Linked DNA regions of Homo sapiens: region 1 is linked to region 2. Evidence: fine-mapped expression QTL. Tissue or cell type: regulatory T cells. Region 2 holds a variant in brackets; the other region holds the start of a gene. All regions are shown on one strand. Distances are between the middles of the regions.

Region 1 (8,104 bases), 120 kb after region 2:
ACATGGGCCTCACTGCAGCACCCTTATTAACTAGAGTTAAAAACTGGGCAGACCTCATCAGTGAAAGAGAGGCACTGCTAGGCACTAGAATATGGAACGGGGAAGTCCCCATGAGCAGGCTGTATGCAGACCAACCTTAATGTAGTCCTCAGAGGAGTACAGGTACTTGTCAATCTGGGTGAGGCCACCATCCACATCCCACAGCAGAATCATCCCAAGAGATGCAGCTGCACTCAACATTCCTATACCAGGGAAGAATCTATTAGTCTTAAAATGGCCCTATCCTGAGGATCCTGTTATTATAAAGAGCTCTCCAAAGAACTGCATGGTGGATCCCTTGTCAGATAACTTATGACTCCAAGAGGACAAAAGAAGTGATCAAAGCAAAACAAAAGACAAAGCAGGAACAGAATTATACCGTGGTCCTTGTTCTTGTAAAGCCATTTGTTGCCATCATCTGTTAGCAGCTTGTCTTGGCCAAAAGCTGCATTCACAAAGCCATTCACAAAAGAGGAGGCCAGGTTCATGCGGGCAGAGTCCACCTGAGAGCCACTGCCCCCAAACCCTGCAACAGGAGGGAGAGGAAAAGTAAGGAAAGAAGGTTTCAGGTAGGACAGGAAAGAAACACAGCATGGCAACTGGTCTCTGGTTCTGAGCTAGTCCCTTAGTATCCTCTACCTATACCCCCCCAAGCAGTGACCTGAAAAAGATTCATGAGGATTCTGAGCTCGATAGGATAAGCATGTTGGCCAAGCCATCACTCCCAATACAAGGGGCATACCTACAATCCCCCAAATCCCATACACAGAGAGGGCTACTCACTGTTGTTCTCTAGGTGGGTTTTGTAGATGTCATCAGGCACCTTGGGCTCCATGATGTCCAGCTGAAGAGAAGTCAGAGGGTCACAATTGCTTCCCTAGAACTCCCCCAGCTGTCCCTTCTGCTATCCCACTGAATGGCAATTCTAATCAAGGAGAGTCTAGTCAGAGGTAGAGTCAGGGAGGTGAAATGGCAGGTAGAATTATGACGAAAAGGCCTTGATGAAAAAAGGGCAGTCTCACCTCCCGAGCTAAGGCCAAGAAGTTGCTGTTGAGCTGTACATTGGACATGATCTCTGTCAGGTCCTCATACTCCTCGACATCTTCACTCAGCTCCAGGAACACCCCATGCCGGCCTAGCATGAATGCCATCTGTTTCTGTACTACCCTGTGGAGAGAGCCCGTACATCTGCTCATCACTGTCCACTAAGGGCACAGGAAAACCCCTCAAGCCCTAACCAGAAACTACAAGTCCCAGCTCTTTATGCAAGTGTCCTATTCGTAAGCTTATCTCTTTGCCAGCTTCTTCCCTACATACACATCCTTGCAGGAGGTGAAGATGTCTTCTACCAACTCCATGTCATTGAGCATCAATGCCAATCTCAGAGCTTCAGGGAAGCGGCTAAACTTTCGGAACACACCCAGGGCACAACGCAGTAGGGCTGAGTTCTCAGGCTCAGGCACGTAATTCACACAACTACAAAAGTAAAAGTAACAAAGAATTCAGAAAGTCCCAGGCACTCATTTTCCCCATGAATTCACTTACCCAAAATAAATAATAAATATCTACTATATACACCAGGCACTGTGCTAGATGTTAGAACTACTAAGAAGACACAAAGTCTCTGTCCTCAAGAAACTCACACACATCAAAAGATTAACTACAGCGTGATGCTATGCTTGAGCAAATGCTCTGGGAAAATAGAGGAGGCGCAATTGAGAGAGAGGTGCTGAGGAGGGCATGCCTGCCACCCTTCCCTACCATGTTCACTCACCTGGTGAGATAAAGGCAGACCTTTGCATATGCATTTTCATCAATGTCCTTCTCCAGCATGTCCACCTGCTCAATTTCCATAAGCAGGTCGCAAGCCTCATGCTCTGCATTGTGGGCCATGTTATAGGGGACGATTTCCTTCACCAGAGTGAGCAGAGGCTCCCGCTGGACCTTCTCTGCGTCATCCAGCTCCTGCCACTCCTTAGCCACTTCTCCTGCCAGATGCCTACAGATAGTCCCAGACGATTAAGAGAGCACAGCTTCAGGGGAAGCACTTCTCTGTGGGTCAAGGAATCCAGCGTCTGGGAAATTCAATACACTGATGCTCCAAGACAGATTGTACTCCACAAGAAAATTCTGAATTATCTCAGAGCCTCAGAGCCCCCTTCGGATTCCCAAGAAGAAAGATCTTACCTGACATACTCATGACCCCATGATGCCAATTCCTCCTGGGAGCCCACTAGCCGATACTTGAGGCACTCACGCTCCCCACTCATGGTCATGGCCAAAACGGAGATGATGTCAGCAGCAAAACGCTATAAAGAAAAGAGTTCTTTGAAGTCAAACCCAGCAGTCCAGCATAAAGGGAGCATGCATTGTGGAATCAAGATCATTGTCTCCGAAACTGAACTAACTACATACCAATCTCTGTACTAGAAATTTAACATGTTATGTAAGCTAAACCTCACAAAAACCAAGGTTGGTGTTGTTGCTATCTCCTTTTTTTTTTTTTTTTGAGACTCAGTTTCGCTCTTGCTGCCCAGGCTGGAGTGCAATGGTGTGCTCTCGGTTCACTGCAACCTCTGCCTCCGGGGTTCAAGTGATTCTCCTGCCTCAGCTTCCTAAGTAGCTGGGATTACAGGCGCCCACCACCACACCCAGCTAATTTTTTTTTTTTTAATTTTTAGTAGAGACGGGGTTTCACCATGTTGGCCAGGATGGTCTAAAACTCCTGACCTCAGGTGATCCACCCCTCGGCCTCCCAAAGTGCTAGGGTTACAGGTGTGAGCCACCACACCCAGCCACTGTCTTCCTTTTAAACTAACACAGCTGAAGGGTGATAAATGAGGGATAAAGTGGAAAAAAATGGAGGCTCTCAATTTTACTTTAATTGCAATTATAAACTATTAAAAGGTCTTAAGCAGAAAAGACCTATAACCGAGAAAGATCACGATAGCTGCTACATGAGAGACAGACTGTGTAGGAACAAAGCACAAAAGCAACAACATCAGTTAAGAGGTGCTGCAATAACCCATGCAAAAACTGAACATTTCCAGGATTAGGGTTGTACCAGCAGGCAGAGAAGTGACTGAATGTGGAACATATTTTAGAGATAAATGAATGTATATGGGATAGAAGAAAAGAGAAAAATCAAGGTTAAACATACGTTAAAAGTAGACCATGCTAATGAAACCCCAAAGTCCAATACACATGACAGAAACAGTGTCTTCTGAGAAGCTGACCTTCCTTTCAGCTCTTCTGTAGATATTTTGACTGTGATGAACTCTGCTCAAATAGATCACGGCTTAGGTCTATCAGGCTTCCTGTGACTCACAATGAGTCCCCCCATGATCTGGGTAAAAAGGAATTCCTAAACTAGGCCTCCACCAGGTTTGAAACAGTTTTACCTTATTCTCCCCAGGGGCCATGTTCTCATAGATTTCCTTCAGTTTGCCATAGTGTGGACGCAGAAATTTGAGAGGCTTGGGCACTGAAGTCATGGAAGTTGTAGAAGAACGAATCTGCCTTCGCAATTCCTCCAGCGCTGGTCGATACAGGGATGTATCCTTCTCCTGATCAAGAGACGACAGGGCTCAGACAAAAAGGAGTCACACCCCTTCAAGTCATAATACAGAGATATTTAACTTAACAACTCCTCCAAGGAAATGCTGTGTCTTATTCATTCATCTGTGATTCCTCAACTCCCTGCACCCTGCCTGGCACAAAAACAAATGACCCAAGTTAAGAGGTAAGAACTCTGCTTCTCCCACAAGAGAAAGCTGCAAAACTGTACAAATACCCTTTGTAACTCTCCTGCCTCCCAACATCATCATAACACTGACCCTAAAATACAGTCCACCGTACATAGCAGTTGCCTCAAAAAAGAATAAAACAAGTGGGAAAGATCCAAACATGCACCGAATCATGTTAACATCGTGACTCACCCCTAGTCGTTCCACGAGCATCTCCAGTTCATCTTGAAGCTGTTTATCCTCTTCAGACTGGAGGGTTGGGAGAAGCAGCTCATGAAGAGAAGGAATCCCAAAGACGTCCTCCTCCCACTTACCCGGGGCAGGTGAAGAATAAGCCTGCCTCCTTAGGAGGGGCCAGGTGGACAAGGAAACCGAGTGGGAATGGGAAGCCCTGGTGAGAAATCAGCCTGGGTTCTGAATCAGGCTCTACTTGAATGCCACTCTAGGAAACGGAGGTGACAATGACCTGCCCGAGTCCACTTCACGCGGCGGTGGTGAGGGTTGGTGGGGACGGCGGAGGTGACAGCGCGGAACGGAGAATGAGGAGCAGAGAGGCAAGGTGCCGGGAGTCCCGAGGGTCGCCCCAACCGCCCTCTCCCTGGCGCGGTGGGGTAGTTGGGTGTCGGGCCTGAGGCCTGCGGAGCCGCCGTGACTCAGCCCCGCAGCCTCCTTCGCCGACTCTCGGGGTCGCGCCTCACCAGCTCCTGTTCTTTGTCCTTGTCCCCGGCATCCCGCCGCTCCTTGCCGCTCGGCTTCTCGTCCGTGCCGCCGGGGGCCGCCGCTGGAGACTGCTGGGGCTGCACCGGCGCCTTGTCCCGGCCTCCCTCCTCCATCTCCGCCGCCACTGCCGGCCCGCTGCGCGCGCACCCGCTCGCACCGCCCTTTTTCCCAGACCAACTCGCGCGCGTCGGTCGCGGCGCCCCTCCTCCTCCAGAGCCCGCCTGCGACCGGAAACGCCGGGGCGAGCCGGGGCGCTCGGCGACCCACCCACCCCCTCGGCCTGAGAGCCCCGCCCTCGGACCCCGCCCTCGGAGGCAGGTGGAGACTACAATTCCCAGCCTCCCCCGCGCCATAGTCGCCCCTGGCCCCCGACCTCTTCGGAGTTTCCTGAAACCCGCGGGACTTGGCCGTGTGGGGTTTGGGTTCGCTCACTGCTGTAGATGGGCGGTCTGCGAGCGGAGTTACCGAGTTTTACTCCGCCACAGGTTTTTCTCATAACGGTGTAAATAGAACCCACAGTGACACTCCAGTTGACTGCGTGGCGCGACAGACAAACTAGATTTCTTGACGTCCAGGACGCTTGATTGCCGCCTGTATAAAGTCTGTGTAACTGTGTCTAGCCCCACACCACTGTGGAATATTAACCTCATTTGGTTTTGTTGTTGTTGTTGCTTTTGAGAAGGAGGCTCGCTCTCTCGCCCAGGCTGGAGTGCAGTGGCGCGATCTCGGCTCACTGCAAACTCCGCCTACCAGGTTCAAGTGATTCTCGTGCCTCAACCTCCCGAGTAGCTGGGATTACAGGCGCCCGCCACCACGCCCAGCTAATTTTTGTATTTTTTAGTAGAGACGGGGGTTTCACTATGTTGGCCAGGCTGGTCTCGAACTCCTGACCTCAAGTGATCTGCCCGCCTCAGCCTCCCAAAGAGCTGTAATTACAGGTGTGAACCACCGCGCCCGGCCTATTAACCTCATTTGATATTCCTCCCCAGTTGAAAGAGAGTACTCTGCTATTCCCGTGGCTACCATTTTAAATACTTTGGGGAGCCAGGTGGAGTTGACATCGATCAATAAAGCCCTGTGCTCCCCGCCAAGTTCTGGAGCTAAAAGCAGAACAAGACAAGGTCTTCGTCCTCTATCTTCTCGTCTTTCCCTGTGAAGCCTTAGAGGCGTGTGACTGACGCGCTTATGTCAGGACTGCTTTCGAGTGATTCCATGCACTTCTTACAATCTTTTGAGATTGGTAGGGTTAGGTCCATTTTACAGAGAAGATCATATCAAGTAGTAAAATGAGGATTTATTTTTTATTTTATTTATTTGTTTTGAGATAGTGTTTCTCTCCTGTTGCCCAGGCTGGAGTGCAATGGCGCAATCTCGGCTCACCACAACCTTCGCCTCCCGGGTGCAAGTGATTCTCCTGCCTCAGCCTCCCGAGTAGCTGGATAAAGAGGAGTTTTAGAAAAAAATCCCTCTACAGATGACTGAAGAAAGCATGAAAATGTATGGACACCGTGAAGCCAGAGATAGAATAGGCAGAACAGTTATGGACTGTTGAATTTTTGTGCCACCACGCCCGGCTAATTTTTGTATTTTTAGTAGAGACGGGGTTTCTCCATGTTGGTCAGGCTGGTCTCCAACTCCCGACCTCAGGTGATCCGCCCGCCTCGGCCTCCCAAAGTTCTGGGATTACAAGCGTGAGCCACCGCGCCCGGCGGAATCAAAATTTAAAGCTCAGTCTTTCAGTCTTCAAAGCCCTTGACTGTTTTAGGCAAACCCCAGAGTTTCTTCTTCAGCTGTGTGTGTGTGTGTGTGCGTGTAAGGTGAGAAAAAAGGAAGTATCTCTTCTCCCTTTCACCTAGTGGGAACACTCAGGAGTCTTCTAGCAATCTTATTTTATGGGTTCTGACACATTGAAGAAAAAGACACCTAGTACAACATATCACAGAGTGAATGTTGGGTAAATGTTTGTGTAGATACGGAAGTAAAGGTCTGAATCCATTTTAAATACCTGTTGCTCTTTTCCACTCAGTGCTTGGATTCTAGGCATGACCTTCCATTGCCATTGCCAATGACTCCCCCAGCGCTGGTCTGCAGACAAAAATTCAACAGTCCATAACTGTTCTGCCTATTCTATCTCTGGCTTCACGGTGTCCATACATTTTCATGCTTTCTTCAGTCATCTGTAGAGGGATTTTTTTCTAAAACTCCTCTTTATCCATGACTTCCTTCTTCTTTTTTTTTTTTTTTTCCAGACGGAGTCTCGCTCTGTCGTCCAGGCTGGAGTGCAGTGGCATGATCTCAGCTTGCTGCAACCTCTGCCTCCCGGGTTCAGGTGATTTTCCTGCTTCAGCCTCCCAAGTAACTGGGACTACAGGCATGCACCACCACACCCCGCTAATGTTTGTATTTTTAGTCGAGACGGGGATTCACCATGTTGGCCAGGCTGGTCTTGAACTCCTGACCTCAAGTTATCTGCCTGCCTTGGCCTCCCAAAGTGCTGGAATTACAGGCATGAGCCACTGCGCCCGGCCTGGAACTGTGTCTTATTCATCTTTATGCTCCTAGCCTCCAGCCTAGCGCCTGGCTTGTAGTGAGCCTTGATAAATATTTGCAGAATGCATGCATGCGGAATGAATGAATGAATGAATGGCTTTGCATTCATCTTCAGGCCATCTTTGTGTATAATAACAACCCACTGGGAGCTGTCTTTGGAGGCCAGAACTAGGCACTGGAAAATCATGAGGTTTCTCCATTTGTAAATCATGATAGACCCACTAAAACTGCTTTTTTTTTTTTTTTTTTTTTTTTTTTTTTTTTTTTTGAGATGGAGTCTCCCACTGTCGCCCAGCCTGGAGTGTAGTGGCACGATCTCGGCTCACTGCAACCTCCGCCTCCCGGGTTCAAGCGATTCTCCTGCTGGTCTTGAACTCCTGACATAGTGATCCACCCACCTCAGCCTCCCGAAGTGCTGGGATTACAGGCATGAGCCACTGCGCCCAGCCTGCTTTTTTTAATTAAAAAAAAAAAATAGGACCTCCAATCCTGCAGAAAACTGTGCTTATTTTTATGAGGGACTCTCTTCCACCCGGACATTTCCAAAGTGCTATCAAGGGTGTGAAATCATACTTCTTGGCATATGTTAGCTTATTGTGGATGGGAATTAGTTAGACTTACCAATGGGACTGCATAAGGGATGGCCTAGCACTTTACCTATAATTGCTTCCCTGTGTCCACCGAGGAGCACCATCCCTTATTTCCCCTTCTGCCTGGACACACCAGAGCATATCACATACGCATACTCAGCCTGACAGGGCTACTAAGGGTAAAGGTTACATCTCTTACCTGATGTTCACCTTGGCTTGCCTCTGGAACCAAGCACCTGCAGAGTGTTCAACAAACAGGTGTTCCCTGGCTTGATTTCAGCTCAATGTGTGCTTAGGTTTCCTGAAGCTGTCTGGTTGTCACATGTGCCTTGCCCAGGGAATCTGGGTTGCATGGAAATGCACCTGCTGGTGATGGTCCCACTCAGAAGCATGATGAAATTGCCCAGAAGACAGATGTGTGTGTTTCAGTCTAAATTCTGTCGTGTTGGAAGACTAACT
Region 2 (8,104 bases):
ACTGGGAGGCTCACAAAACATCCTGGACTTCTTCCTCTAATCATGCCTGAAGTCCAGCTGAGCTAATTTCCCTACCTTTGCTTAAACCCATCTGCTTCTTTCCATACAAGTCCATGTCAGATGCAGGCAGTCAAAGAATTGTCTCAGAGTTCATATCCATCCTCCTCCTTTCCTTCTTTCTTTTGCATTTCCCTCTTTCTCCATTCACTCAGTCAGTCAACAAACACAGGTTGAACATCTATACCATGCTAGGCCCTAGAAATATAAAGAGCAAAAAAAGACAATGCCCCTAAGGTCAGGGAGTTCACAATATAGCAGGACAGGGATGTCAAGAACCCTAGAATCATGAAATTTGCACACACAAGGAGCTCAGAGGCCATTCTTTCTTAACTAAGTTACATAAATCTGGATTGTTATTCCTTTTACAATATTTCAAACAAAAAAGTAAAGACACTAACATATCTGACACCCAAGCACCCAACACCCAGCTCTATGGAATTCTGACATTTATCTTTCTCCTGTATGTTTATACTATATAAAATATATGTAACTACATACCCATTACGTTTTCAAACTATATATAAAATGTATCACATTCTGTATGTCATTTTACAAAGTGATACAAAGTGATTTTTTGCTCAACTTTATGTTTTTGAGGTTAGCCACATTTGGATTTCTTCCTTTCCAATTCTTATACCATTTTTCTTATATTATTGCATAGGCTAGGTTCTCCAATGTGGAAAAGACGTGATGAGAACAGCCATCCTTGTTTTACTCCTGAGTTTAAAAGAATGCTTCTGGGCTGGGCGTGGTGGCTCACACCTGTAATCCCAGCACTTCAGAAGGCCAAGGCAGGCAGATCACCTGAGGTCAGGAGTTCAAGACCAGCCTGGCCAATGTGGTGAAACCCCATCTCTACTAAAAATACAAAAACTAGCCAGGTTTGGTGGTGGGTGCCTGTGGTCTCAGCTACTCAGGAGGCTGAGGCAGGAGAATCACTTGAACCCAGGAGGCAAAAGTTACAGTGAGCTGAGATGGCACCACTGCACTCCAGCCTGGGCGACAGAGCAAGACTACATCTCAAAAAAAAAAAAAAAAAAAAGATTTGTGCCATTTGAGTTTGTTTGCTGGTGATTTTTGGTAGATAACCCTTATCATGTTCAAAAAGCTTCCTTTTATTCCAAATTTGGTTAAGTTTTACCATGAATGGATATAATTTTTTATCACATGAATTTTCTGCATCTATTAAGATGATCAATATTTTCTCCTTTAATTTTTTAATATGGTGAGTAGTATTCATAAATTAAGTTAAACATTCTTACATTCTAGTATTAAACTCTAAAAATAGGCTAGTTAATTCATTTTGCTCATATTTTATTTATGACTTTTGTATTTATGTTCATAAGTGAGTGTATCAGTTCTCTATTACTATTGAAATAACAATAACTGATTGAAACAACAATAAAATATGCTGGGAGTGGTGACACATACCTCTAGTCCCAGCTACTCAGGTGGCTGAGGCAGGAGGATCGCTTGCACCCAGGAGGTCAAGGCTGCAGTGAGCCACGATTGTGCCACTGCACTCCAGCCTGGGCGACAGAGTGAGATCCTATCTCAAAAATAATAACAATAATAACAATAATAAACAGGTGGAAGCTGCAATGTCTGTCATCACTTAAGCTGAGATGTCACACACCATTATTTTCTGCACCACCCTACCGGTTACACAGATCAGCCCTATTCATTGTGGAAAGGTGTGACACAAGGGCATGAGCACCAGGAGGTGAGGATCACTGGGGCCAGACCAGAAGCTGGCTCCCACATAAGCCCTGCAGAGTTATTTGAGTTCTAAAAAAACATGAATATGTATATCTTTAATAAAAATGAGAAGTTTAAATGAGTTTTTGGCCAGTCATGGTGGCTCATGCCTGTAAATCCCAGCACTTTGGGAGGCCGAGGAGGGTGGATCACCTGAGGTCAGAAGTTCAAGAACAGCCTGACAAACATGGTGAAACCCCATCTCTACTAAAAATGCAAAAATTAGGCCAGGCACTGTGGCTCACGCCTGTAATGCCAGCACTTTGGGAGGCCAAGGCGGGCGGATCACGAGGTCAGGAGTTTGAGACCATCCTGGCCAACATGGTGAAACCCCGTCTATACTAAAAATACAAAAATTAGCTGGGCATGGTGGTGCGTGCCTATAGTCCCAGCTACTCGGGAGGCTGAGACAGGAGAATTCCTTGAACCCAGGAGGCGGAGGTTGCAGTGAGCCGAGATAGCACCACTGCACTCCTGCCTGGAGACAGAGCAAGACATCGTCTCAAAAAAACAAAAAAAAAAAAAGCAAAAATTAGCCAGGCCTGTCCCAGCCACTCAGGAGGCCAAGGCATGAGAATTGCTTGAACTCGGGAGGCAGAGGTTGCAGTGAGCCGAGATCACAAAACTGCACACCAGCCTGGGTGACAGAGACTCGGTCTCAAAAATAAATAAATAAAAAATAAAGGAGTTTCTGTTGTAGTCAACACTCATTTAAATTTATCAACATGTTTTATCTATTTCTATGCTTAACAGTGTTTCATGTGCTCTCCCCTTTTTTTCTGGTTCATTTTTCTTCCTGAAGTGTATAACCTATAATAATTCTTTAAATGAGGGGCTGCACTTTACATGTATCGAAACGCCCCTTTTGTCTTAAATTTCCACTGTAAGTTAGCTGGGCATAAAAATCCAATTGGCACTTTGAAGATACTACCCCCTCATCCCCAGCCTCAGTCTTTGCTGAGGTCCAGAAATTACTTTTTAAGTAATCTGTCTTTTTCTCAGGTCCATGGTAAGGTTTTATTCTCTTTGCCCTTGATGTTCTGCAATTTCCCCAAGGAAATTTCTCAGCTACTATTTCCTCATGTATTTTTCACTGCCATTCCCTTTATTCTCTTCCTCTGAAACTCCTATTAGACATACATAGCCCTTCATGCAAGCTGTCCTTCATATCTCATAACTGCTTTTATATTTTTTAATCTTTGTGTATTGTATTCATGTTAATTCCTAAGTAATGTCTTCTAACTCAATAATTCTCTTTTTGCATCATTTATTCTGTCTACTGAGCTTTCTTTTAATGAACAAACTTTCTATTTCTAAGATTTCTAATTGATTCTTTTCACATCTACTTGTTCTAGTTTCATTTTGATCTGCCTTCATTTATGTCTTGTTAATTTCCAATGGATATTAAGCCTTCATTTGCCATTTTTGGCATCCTAAACATTTTTAATTCTTTGTAAGACTTTCACAAAATTAATTTAATCTGCAGTGAACTCATATTCCACATGGTGATTCTGTTGACTGCTTTTCTTTCTTGCTTTTTTTTTTTTCTAAAGATGGGATTTCACTATGTTGGCCAGGCTGGTCTTGAACTCCTGACCCCAGGTGATCCTCCCACCTTCACCTCCCAAAGTGCTGGGATTACAGGCACGAGCCACCACGCCCGGCCTTGTTGACTGTTTTTCTTACCATTGTTTCTCATCTATTTTGGCTTACAACTTTACAGTGAGTTGGAGGGTTTTCCACCTTGTTTTTACATCTGTTTTTCACTCTGTCTCTAACTATCCTGAGCTAGGACCTCAGGCCCAGTTGAGGTCTTACAATAGCATTGCAGGGCTCTACTCTGTTGTGGCATGAGGACACCACAGCTACAAGCACGTAGCCAGAGGGTGGCTTGGCTCAGCATCTAGTCAAGAGTCTGTCCTCATCTTCCCACAACTCAAGCCCCAAGCTATTTGTGGACAGCTGGCTTCCTCACTCCATCCCCGCCACCCCCGATTCTTTTCACAAGCAGAGGGAACCTTCCCCGAGCCCTGGCTTCCAGACACCTGGCTGTTGGCCCCTTTGTAGCATGGAGCACTTTAACTCCCTTACCAGGAGCTCTGTGTCTGGCAGCTACTGCTGTTTCCAGACCCCGAGGCCAGCAGGCCCCTGGCCCCAGTCACCAATTTGCATTTCTGATCTGCTTGTGGTACACAGAGATAGCCATTTTGGTTGGGGCCCAACTATGTCCTTTTGTTTATCATTTTTTCTATTTTATTCCTGATTGCTGTGTGTTTGGAACAGAGAGAGGAGGCCACAGCGTGAGCCCACTCTGCCGTCTTGGCTGGAAGTCCAGCACTGAATTGTGAGGCTGCCGTACCTGTAGAAAGTCCCATGTCTGCTTTCATTCAGGTAAAAGAGGAGAGATGGTTTCATTAAAATCCAATAGGCATTTTTTTTTTTTAAAGATGGAGTCTCACTCTGTTGCCCATGCTGGAGTGCAGTGGTGGGATCTTGGCTCACTGCAGCCTCCATCTCCCAGGTTCAAGCGATTCTCCTGCCTCAGCCTCCCAAGTAGCTGTGACGACAGGCATGCGCCACTACACCTGGCTAAGTTTTGTATTTTTAGTAGAGACAGGGTCTCACCATGTTGGCCACGCTGGTCTTGAATTCCTGACCTCAAATGATTTGCCCACCTTGGCCTCCCAAAGTGCTGAGATTACAGGTGTGAGCCACTGTCCCCAGCCCACTCAGGGGCTTTTATGCTTCACTATGAATTTCCTCTCAGGATAACAGACTGAGCCCGTGTGTTCCCCAGTCACACACACACACACACACACACACACACACACACACACGCTGAGGGTTATTCTTTGAAAGGGGAGGCCACGTCTGGGGGCGGTGGCTCACGCCTGTAATCTCAGCACTTCGGGAGGCCGAGGTGGGTGGATCACCTGAGGTCAGCAGTTCAAGACCAGCCTGGCCAACATGGTGAAACCCCGTCTCTACTAAAAATACAAAAATTAGCTGGGCGTGGTGGCGCATGCCTGTAATCCCAGCTACTTGGGAGGCTGAGGCAGGAGAATCGCTTGAACCTGGGAGGCAGAGGTTGCAGTGAGCCGAGACTGTGCCATTGCACTCTAGCCTGGGCAACAGAGTGAGACTCCATCTCAAAAAAAAAAAAAAAAA[GAAA/A]AAGAAAGAAAGAAAGAAAAGAAAGGGGCAGCCACGGGATGCAGACAAGGCCTGATCGCCACCACTCCTCCCTCCTCAGAGCAGAGCTGGGCCTGTGGGTAACCATGGGTAGCAGCTGGTGCTGGGTACCACGGAAGGCACGTGTGGGGTGAGGCTCCCCTTCAAACCGTTCCCAGGGGAGCGCCTCCCCCTGGTGGCCATCAGAGGAAGCAGCGGTGCTCTCTGCCAAGGACAAGGCCGCAAGGAGTGAAGATTTTCCACACACAGCCAATCGTGCAGACCTGGGACCTGTGGTCATGACACCGGCAGCCTAAAGGTCCTACTTAAATAGGGCCCAGGGCAGAATTCTGTCTATGATCTCCCCTGCTGTGCCGGGACACAGCCCACTCTGCTCAGGACTGTGTAGAGGCGGCTCCCTCCTGCCTGGCCCTTCTGAGCCTCAGAACATTGACTCCAGAGACCACTGGGTCCATAGATTCTTTGGATGGATTTTTAAACTTGAATGTCCAGACCCTTCTTGAGGCCACACAGAGGACTGAGGGAGGGCAGTCTGTGTAGGGGTCCAGGACATGGGTTTGAGGATTAGATAGACCTGAGTCCAAATCCCACTTGCCACTTGTTAGCTGTGTATCTCTAGGCAAGTTACTTAACCTCTTTGTGCCTCTGTTTCTTCATCTGTAAAATAAAGATAATAGTTGTATATACCTTAAGGGGTTGCTGTGAGAATAGAGCCAGATAACCAGGTCCCTCCTCCCTCTCCGCCCCCCGCCCATGGCCCCTGTTTTGGAGGTGCCTGGGCTCTTACTGCCTCTTCCTCTGCCCTTCCTGGAAACTGCGGGCTTCCATCAGCCTCCTCTGGGCCTTGGGCGACAGGGATGGGGGTCTTTTTTTTTTTTTTTTTTTTTTTTTGAGACAGAGTCAGTCTGTCACCCAAGCTGGAATGTGGTGGTGCGATCTTGGCTTGCTGCAATCTCTGCCTCCTGGGTTCAAGTGATTCTCCCGTCTCAGCCTCCAGAGTGGCTGGGACTACAGGCGTGTGCCACTATGCCTGGCTAATTTTTGTATTTTTAGTAAAGGTGGGATTTCACCATGTTGGCCAAGCTGGTCTCAAACTCCTGACCTCAGGTGATCCGCCCGCCTTGGCCTCCCAAAGTGCTGGGATTACATGCGTGAGCCACCGCTCCTGGTTGGGGGCATTTTTTGAGGAGGAGCCAGGCCCAGATGGAGTCACACTGCAGAGGCCTCACATGGGGGCCAAAGTCCTCAGGCCCTGAAGGTGTCCCAGAGAATCACAAACTCACAAACATACCCTCTGGCTGCTGGGGCCTGGGCTTCTCCTGTTTAATGATTTCCCACCCAGTGGCCCACAGGTCCTATACTCTCAGGGAACACACACAGAATTCTGGAGCCCCTGCCAGAGGCACAGTTCAAACACAGCAGAGCTGGGCCTGCAGCTGGTCTGTCAGTCACACTAAAGTTATGGCGCACCTGCTCTGTATTTAGCACTGGGGCTTCTAAGGGAAGGGATGTGTCTCTGCCTTCAAGGCATTCGCAGCACAGTGGGGAGACTGGCTGCAGAGCCCCCTGACATGACTCACAGGAGCCGCTCTAGTGAGACTCTGCAGGCACAGCCCGGGCCCAGATCAGGGTCCGCCCAGGAGAGTCAGGGACGGCACCCAGAAGAGGGGCTTCTGGCTGGGCACTTGAATGTGGAGTAAGAATTTGCCAGGCAGACAGACTTGATCGATTCATTCGATACGTTTTCATTCGACACCTGCCACCCTCCCTGCAGCTGCTGTTCTATGCACTAAGGATTCAGTGGTGAAGAAGAGTAAAGCAGTTCTTGCTGTCCAGACCTTGGCCTGGCACTCACTGCAGGCCCATGGTGCTCTCCTGTTGAACATAAACAGTTTCACAGAACATCAACATCAGACAAGGCCACTCTGTGGCTGTGATGGAACTAGACAGAAACAAGCCCAAACCCTACAAGTTCTTTCTGACACCCCCTCACTGATACGCCCACAGTGCCCCATGGCGTGCGTTCCCCTTCACTGCAACCAGCCATAAACCCCAAGTGCTCCACTATAGGTGGGATCCTGGTGGTCTTCGGGTGGAGGGCAATTGACAGTGATGGCTGAGAGGTAGGATTTGAGTGGAAATGTGGAGATTGAATGAAATGAAGGGCAAGCCATGCGGAAACGTCAGGGCGGAACATTCCAGGCAGACGGAACAGTCATCGTAAAGGCTCTGAGGATGGAATATGACAGGCAGATTTGAAACCTGCAAATATGCCAACCTAGCTGGAGCAGAAAAGGCAGAGCAGGTATTCCAGGCAGAGGGAAAAGACTGTGAAAACCTAATGTGAAGGAAAGTAGGCCCCTGCTGACACGTATGGGTAGTTCTGTGCAGTTGAAATAGAAAGTTAGGCCAGGCTCGGTGGCTCACGCATATAATCCCAGCACTTTGGGAGGCCAAGGCAGGCAGATCACCTGAGGTCAGGAACTCGAGAGCAGCCTGACCTATATGGTAAAACCCCGTCTCTACTAAAAACACAAAAATTAGCTGGGCATGGTGGCAGGCGCCTGTAGTCCCAGCTACTCGGGAGGCTGAGACAGGAGAATTGCTTGAACCCAGGGGGCGGAGGTTGCAGTGAGCCAAGATAGTGCCACAGCACTCCAGCCTGGGTGACAGAGAGAGACTCCCATCTCAAAAAAAAAAAAGAAAAAAAAAAAAGAAAGCTAATGTCATTTGTTTTGGAGAAGAAGGATGAGTACACAGGAAATATGCAATTAAGAGCCTTCATTGCCTCTCCTCAGAGATTCTTAGCAAAATCACCAAGAACCCAAATGCTCTGCCGGAGCCACCCATGATGGCATTTTCCTTTGATGTGGTAATAGAGTAAGCTGATCAATAGCCTCGGTAGTGAGGCCTACCGAAGGGAAATGCACTTGTTCGGGACAATTCCTTCATGTTATCACTAAGAGGGAAGAGAAAACAGATGGCAGTGCTCCTCACTTTCGGGTGACCCTGCCAGCCCACCCCACGGTTTTGCGTCTTCATGATCCATCTAGGGGAAAGCCTGCCCCTTTGGTTTAGGTCTAATAGGATTACCTAG

Evidence for each region. PIP is the estimated chance that this variant, and not a neighbour inherited with it, causes the effect.
Region 1: it holds the start of PSMD2, and the variant in region 2 is fine-mapped to the expression of PSMD2 in regulatory T cells (Schmiedel 2018, PIP 0.95).

Annotation. Positions count from the first base shown.
Region 1 is chr3:184,295,781-184,303,884 of GRCh38, reverse strand. PSMD2 (proteasome 26S subunit ubiquitin receptor, non-ATPase 2) reads right to left here and starts at 4,644. Exons shown (of 21, transcript NM_002808.5): 1 at 4,484-4,644; 2 at 3,978-4,034; 3 at 3,441-3,605; 4 at 2,227-2,348; 5 at 1,814-2,038; 6 at 1,357-1,515; 7 at 1,062-1,206; 8 at 823-883; 9 at 419-565; 10 at 136-242. The coding sequence starts at 4,618. RefSeq lists a silencer at 4,637-4,976.
Region 2 is chr3:184,415,104-184,423,207 of GRCh38, reverse strand. LINC02054 (long intergenic non-protein coding RNA 2054) reads right to left here. Exons shown (of 4, transcript NR_161199.1): 2 at 76-255. Among named protein-coding and RNA genes, the nearest start is that of LINC02054, 18 kb to the right of the region's middle. RefSeq lists an enhancer at 6,428-6,929. The variant GAAA/A (reference allele first, on the strand shown) is at 4,987.